Homo sapiens: one gene and its partner. The protein of the gene in region 2 interacts with the protein of the main gene of each other region in a pairwise test. Each region holds a gene or a part of one and is shown on either strand. Other genes may lie near its edges. The genes, in order: JAZF1 and RXRA.

Region 1 (3,814 bases), on a different chromosome or scaffold from region 2:
TCTGTATTTATTTCTCCAAGACTTTCAGGTGCGGAAGAGCCTTCAATGAAAATGCAAACATCTTGTAAAAGATCACAACTTAGGCTGTAAAGAGCAAGCACTGAGTATATGGGCACACCTGGCAGCAAAGCCGGCCCTGGCTACCCCGGGCATTTTCCTGGCTGTTCTTTGCTCTGTGTCCTGGCTTCCTCCTGCGTCGCATGGGACTAACACTGCATAATGCATATTAAAGCAACTAGCCAGTAGGTACTGTGAAAGGAAAATCAATCTCGGGATCCCCCCAAATAATAAATAATAGTATTACTATCTCATATAAATAAGACTGTAAGAGCTGCCCAAGTTTGAAAAGCTCAAGTTAGTGAGATCAGGAGGATTCAAAATCCAATTCTGTATAGCTTCACAGTCCATGCTTCTCACCACCCAGGCCTCTGCCTCCTGTGTACCAAATACCCCTGGCAATTTAACAAGGAAAATCAATTTCCTTTTTAAATCAGCTTTAAAAAGAGTCTCTTTCAGATTCCCTTAATATAAACCATACTGGACTAATTGCATAATGGATATTTGTGTGAATGCCATAAACACATAAACATATAAATATACAGCCCTCATTGATGCAAACCTACAGAAATTAATTTCAAAGATGTTTTTCACTGTCCAAAGTTACCTTTGTAATTTATTTTTTTCACAGCCCAAAGTACTTCTCAATTTTTATTTTCATACCATTTCTGAAAACACGTCTTGGGGACGAGGATAGGATGATGACAAGACCCTGAGTTTCTGGGGGAGGAAACAGTGCACAGGAGGTGACCACACAGTTCAGAGCACACCCCCGCTGGTGCAGCTGTGGGCAGGGGCTACAGGACAGAGAGGGGAAGACCCATTAAAATAATGATATTTATTGAGGTAAAAGAGGCTTTCTGTCCTGAAGAAAAATATTTCTGTTTTATACCAATATAAACAAACACTCTAGTTCATATTTCACTAAGTGTGTTATTTAACTAATATGGTAGCATATTTAACTCCAAAGCGGAAGGCAGTACTTACAGGATGGGGGTAATGTCTACTTCACAGGCTTGCTGTGAGGGCCAATGAAATACTATACAAAAATTATTTAGCACTGTCTGTGGCACATATAGTAATGATTCCCGAATTGGGAGCTCAAGGAATAGACCCAAGTTTTGTGGGCCTGCAGATTCAGACTTTTCTTATGAAAAAAAATTGAATGTTATAAAATGTTTACAAAAGTGATTATCTATTGAGATTAAGAAATCACAACAAATCACAAAATTTTACAAGCCGCAATACCAAAACATCCTAAAATCAGAATCCAGGAAAAGAACCCAGTATGTGTATTAATTAACTTCCTGACACACTGCTATAAATACTTCTTTTGGGCTGTATACTCTGATGAATCCTCATATCACAATGACTTATATTCATATCATTTTCCACAGGGCAGAAAGATGAATCAATCTCCCCTCAAGCATGGGTGATCAAAATTTATTCCTAATTATTGACAATTCAGAAAAGTTACTTTTAGCCTTATAGTTCTTTATTGGCAATGACATATACATTTTTAGGATTGTTGTCAAACCTGTAATCACATCTCTTAATTTTCTTTCACATATGAGCCATAAAAATCCAGGACATTTCAAGTTTTCTCGTGCAATGACTAACTTTAAATATTCTTTTTATCAATGATACTCATTAACCAGTTTGTTGTCAGTATTTTTGGTATCAGGCATATTCATGTCAAATGAACAAGAATCTTAAACACAGAATTCCCATTAAAAATGGTGCATTTCTAATAGTATATTTGTATTATTGAGTATATTCCTAAAAGAAGAGAATTTTCATACTGACTACACTTAGATAAGAACTGAATCCTCCACGTAGAATTTTACACATCTAACAAGTGAAAGAATTCTCCACAGACCTGGCTCCACGCACCATAAACCATCCCACAGCAGATGTCATGGTACCCGTTAACACTGCAATTCTCTCTCTGACCCTCCCCTTTGTGTAAGGACCCCAGGTAAGCTGGCACGGTGGGTGGCGATCCTATGAAGCAACTTCTACACTAGGATGGCTAGGGATAACTTGACACAGAGATGACTGTGAACTGCATAAATACATCCCACTAAACCCAAACAAAATGTGGACCCAATTCGACTTCCCCCTAGCTATATCTCAAAAGCACTTTCAAGTCCAATGTCATCAAACCCAAACAGAAATGTGACAGCAGGGAAGTCAGAATGAGAAAGAAAAACATTAAAGGATTGCTTAAAATCTTCTTCCAATTTTACCAGTTATGATCCCATGAAGGCCCAGCTACGTATACTGCTAGGGCTCCTCCAGGGCCCTGGAAAGTGCTGGGTGGGCCCTGGCAATATATTCAAAAACGGCAAGGAATGCGTTGTACAAGTCAGGGGCCCTGGGGCTGGAGCTTCATTAGCTTCACAATAAATCTGCCTCTGTGGTCCCTATTATTATTCATTATTTATCTCAGTCTGTACATGTCTGGTCTCTCCAAATAAATTTCAAATCCTTAGAGATAGGAAGTACTGTCTTAAGCACTAACATAGGAAATACTCAAAAATGTGTGGCTGTCCTCACTATCCATGGTGATCTTGAAAGAGAGGGAAAAAATGTATAATACAAATGTATACATATACACACATAAATATATACACACATATGGATATACGTACACACATATATGTGGTATGTGTATTAGACATATACATGTATTATTTATATATGTGTTAGATATCCTACATGCCTTTGTGCCTAAAATATATATTTATTTCTATATATCAATTATATCTATAATACCAAAGAAATGGTGAATTTTTCAGTGTTATTAACCTGGCATCCAGATCATGTCCCTTCAAGGAGGTCTATCTCAGGAGAAAGTCACCATTGTAGTCTGGCAGACAATGAACAGTGCTTCCTTGGGAGGCCAGTGGGTGAGCTGGGCAAGGGACAATGGCCGTCAGGGGACTATCAGTGCTCTCTGGTGCTGGGCAGACAGTCTATTGTTAGTGACCCAAGAAGAGTCCCTCTGACTCCTGCCAAAGTTGACAGCAATTGGAAAGACTTCACCCTTAAAGAGGATATCCACTAATCTGGTCCCTGCTTGCAGCTAGCTTTAAAAAAAAAAAAAAAAAAAAAAAAAAGTAGGTGAAAACTACTGCAACATTCCAGTGCTTACAGCGAGGGGAAAATACAATTTTCTTTACAGCAATTAAATATATTAAATGGAAGGCACTTTTAAAAAATACACACATAATAAATTTCTGACATCTATGGTTTCCTATCTTCAGATTCTAAATAAATAACATTTTTCAACTTAATACGTTAGCCAGGTCAACATGGAATAAATCTATTACCTCACCATGAAACAAAATGAGTATCTACAATCCAGCAAGTATTTCTTTGTACACAGGACACGTCTGTACTGTCAAGATCTGAAGGCGGGGGTAAGAATGGGGTAGAGAAATATAAGGGAATGTGGGGTATGTATGATTGTTGCCCTAGAAGCTAAAACTAGAAAAGGAGGATTTTTAAGGAATTCAGAAACATTGTCTCCTGTCTCTCAGACTCAGTCTACAACACCAGGCCTCTGGCTTCCAAACAGTCCCAGGGAAGCCCCTCATCAAGTGTCACCAGCCTGTGCCAGCCTTAAGGTATCCTCACTGTCACCTACGGGAAGAATTGGGTTTTCTCAAAACAGCTGTCAGTTTGTATTTCTAGAACTGTCAACGTAGGAGATATCTCCGAAATATATGAACTCTAAAGGAAACCATTTTCT
Region 2 (3,814 bases):
GGGGGGGCCGGAGCCAGGGCCAGGGAAAAGGTGCCTCACCCATACCCGTGCCCGGGAAAGACGACCCCCAGGCCAGCCCAGGGACCTGGCCTAAGCCCCCAGGAAGATGCTAGGAATCCTCCCCCCTTCCCAGGCTGCCATGCTGAGGAGCCCAGCCAGGGCAAGGGTGCAAGGCCATTCACAGGGGCCCCAAGGCCCACCTGAAACCAGTGAGCCACCTGGAGAGAGTCACTTCCTCCTTCCAGGCCTTGCCTGGCTGCCTCCAGACCACCCTCTGCACAGCACTGGTGGCCTCATTCCAGCCATGAGCACCACACTGGGATCCCCCAGTCTCCGGGCACCCATGCACCTACGCCCGGCACACAGGCCCTACCCAGCCTCACCTCACACGTGAACCCCCTCCTGGTTCCAGCCCTGCAACCCCACCCTTGCGTCCTCACCCTCTTCACCCCCTCCAGGCCAGACCTTGCTGTCCCTACCTCTGGGCACCCCTCCCCCACCCCTCCTCCACAGGCAGCAGGACCAGGCCAGCACCCAGCGGGCGCTCCCTAAGCCACGTGTGGACAAGCCCACCAGCAATCCCCGCCTCCCCAGCCAGGGTTGTCAAGGCTCTGCCAGGTCACCCTGGGAAGGCTGCGGCGGACGCCTGCATGCATGGGGTGGGCCGCGTGTGCTGGGTTAGGACCTCAGAAAGAACTGTGCCCCTACCCTGCCCTGCCCTGGGACCCGGGGGTCCAATCTCACTCCGTCCACTCCCCCAGGTACCTCAGGAATTTGCTGCAGACAGTGCTGCCCTGGTGGCATGAGGAGGTGGGCAAGCCACAGTTCCAGGCTGGGCCTCTGCTGCTCACCCAACTACAGCTTTCCACCTGGGAGTGGGGACTTCTCCTAGCCACCACCCCAAGCCAAGGACAACCCTGGAGTGAGGATCAAGGGGTCGCCACTCCTTAGAGGGCCTTCAACCAGCACAAGAGGCCAAGATGCCCAGTCCCAGGGCACAGAGCTGGCATGGTGAGACCTCAGCCCTCCACCAGGGTCCCCACTGAACAAAAACCTCACTCACTCGGGCCAAGACCAGCAATGGGGCTCCTGGGAACCAGCATGGGGCATAGACCCAGCCTGGTCGGTGAGCAGCCTCTGAGGATGCTGAGAGGCAGGAGGACCAGGGGCAGCAGAGCCCCCACCCTGGGGACAGGTCCTCCCAGCTGGAGCTCAAGGCGGCCCCCGCCAGTCAAGTGCCGGAGAAAAAGCAGGCCCCACAGCGGGACACAAAGGCTGGCCCACAGACCTCACCCAGGGTTCAGTGTCCCCATCCACTAAGTGGGCTTGTCTCTGTGACACCTCCACAAGGTCCCAAAAATAAAGTCCCTGGCACGCAGCAGGCACCCGCTGCAGCCATCGGCACCTTCGTGGGGGTAGGGTGAGTCCTGGACAAGTTGGGGAGATTTAGAAAAAAAGGAGGCCAACAAACCCAGCAGGGAGCACCATGATCCTTGGGGGACCCCATGAGGCCTGGCTCACTCACGGGCACGCCAGGACACGGGCCAGCGGCCAACAGCGCCAGGTGAGAGCCTGTGACTCTGTGTGTGTGCAACAGTGAGCGTGCACACACCCAAGCCCTGCACGCGGTCCGCACCCGCTCTCCCCACAGCGGCCGGGCCAATTTTCCTTAGCTGCTTTCTGCTCCATTTCACGCTCATTCAGCTGCTGAGCTAGACAATTGCTTTGTAACTCTAGGGCGCAATTTCCCTGTCTGTGAGGCGCTGGGGCACAACTGCTCAGAACATCTCGCACCAGGCTCGGGTGGGTGTGCAAACCGCGGTCCCTCGCCCCACCTGCCTTCTTGGGACTCTGAGGAGGGTCCCTGGAGTGGCACAGGGGCTGGTCCCAAGGACCCAGCAGCAGCGAGCGCTCTCCTGTGGCAGGCCTATATCCACAGAAAGGGCTACCTCAGTGTCCCCGATGTCCTCTATTCCTGAGTCTGTTCCTCTACACCTGACAGCCCCCAGCGACCATCATGGCCTGTTCTGGTCCAGTGCTGGAAACCTGGCCCCACCTGACCCAGGCAGGAGGCACAGAGAGGACCTAGCCACAGGATAGGGGAAACGCCCCACAAACAGACTCCCCAAACTCCCAGCCAGCCTACAACACACCAGGCTGCCTTCTCCAGCATTTGGAAGAGCCAATGAGTATGTCCATTTTTCAGATGGACAGCCAAAGCCCCAAGAGGCCAAAGAGCAGACCAGGCAGGCAGCGAGGACAGAAGGCCCAACCCCAGGTGGCCTGACCACCCGCCCAGCAATGGGACACCACCTGTCAGAACCTCTTCCTGGGAAGGTGCTGATCCCTGCAAAACCACCACCACCTCCATCCTGCAGGTAACAAAGGCCCTGAATGGGAGGGGGCAGAGGAGAGGAAGGAAGGATGAAAGACAGAGCTGCACCCTATAAAATGGAAACATACAGGCAGGTGGGCAAGGTGCAGGGGGGAGGAGGGTGACCCCTCTACCCACACCATAGCACCCTGAAACTGATCAGCTTAAGAATCTCAGGACAAAGGTCTGGAAGGTGACCCCCAAATGGACACCAGCCCCCAACAGCCACAGGCCAGCCCCCCAGGCCCTTGTGGCCCTAGACCCCAGCCTCATCCCTAGCCCAGCAAATGGCCAATTCCTATGAAAACACACCAGTTAACAGGCCAACCCAAGGCCCTGGCCACCAAAGCCAGCTAAAAAACACAAACTCAAGCCTGGCAGAGAAGGGAAGGAGGGGCAGGTCTTGGCTTGCAAAGCCCGGGTCCCAGGGACAGTGTCCCAGCCCTGAGCCAGCTGGGGGTTGGGGAGGGCCTCTGCCCTGTGTCTGCTGGGACAGCTGTGCCCTCTTCTCCAGAGGACAGGCATTGCTCACCACTCGAGGTCCCAGCCCTGAAACATTTGACCCATGGCAAAACCAAACGTCACCCAAGAAAGGAAACTCCCCAGGCAGCCTCCACTGGCACTGGGTGGACCTGTAAAGCTTTCACCCCGCCCCCACACCACCTTCCATGCAGCTGAGGTCTGTCCCACCCTCTCCTGATGCCAGAGCCCCCTGCCACATGCACGACCAGGCCCCAGGGGCAGAGGGGCACACCCCTGAGTACCCCCTGTTCCCACAGTAATTCCACAGCAAATCCTGCAGGCACCCTTTCCCAGGGGAGGAAACAAAGACCACTGACAGCGACCTCCCACACAGCCACGGGGGAGATGGGGCAGGGGCCAAGAGAGGGCAGTCAGAGGGGCCTCCTGGTGGAGGTGAGCCCCCCACAGGCCCTGAAGGACAGGCACAGCTGGAAGAACCACCAGGTGCTGGCAGAGCCGGGAGCCAGTCACAGCAGCTGCCCGCGTGACCAGGGCTGCCGGCTCAACCTGCACCCCACACCCCAAGGGACTCAGAGCACCCGCCCCCCACCAGCCCTTCCTAGGGGCCCAGCTCGTCCCATCCACATCTGGGCAGAGGGTCACAGCTGCATGCTCGGGTCCAGGCCCAGCAGCCAGCCCTAGGCAAGGTTGGAGGCTAGCAAGCCAGGGCCACCATCGGACTGGGCCATTTTTCTCTCCCTGACACCTCCCCAGTCAACAAACAGGGCCCCTCCAGAGTTTACCAAAACAAACACCCTGCCGTCGGGCAGCGCCCGCGCTAAAAGACGCCCTCGTCAGGCCCGAGCGGGACTCCAAGCCCAGCCTCCTGAGAGTCACATGACCCTGTTATTTCGGGAGGCCCCGGAATGTGCTCTATTTTGGGTCCCAAGGGCTCTGATGTTACCAGAAGCCCCTCAC

What was found.
Region 1: the proteins of RXRA (region 2) and JAZF1 interact in a two-hybrid assay, tested with the Homo sapiens proteins (one study listed by BioGRID).

Annotation. Positions count from the first base shown.
Region 1 is NC_000007.14:28,170,728-28,174,541, forward strand, and holds part of JAZF1 (juxtaposed with another zinc finger protein 1), read right to left. Parts: intron 1-3,814. UniProt on the Homo sapiens protein: Acts as a transcriptional corepressor of orphan nuclear receptor NR2C2. Inhibits expression of the gluconeogenesis enzyme PCK2 through inhibition of NR2C2 activity.
Region 2 is NC_000009.12:134,329,213-134,333,026, reverse strand, and holds part of RXRA (retinoic acid receptor RXR-alpha), read right to left. Parts: intron 1-3,814. UniProt on the Homo sapiens protein: Receptor for retinoic acid that acts as a transcription factor.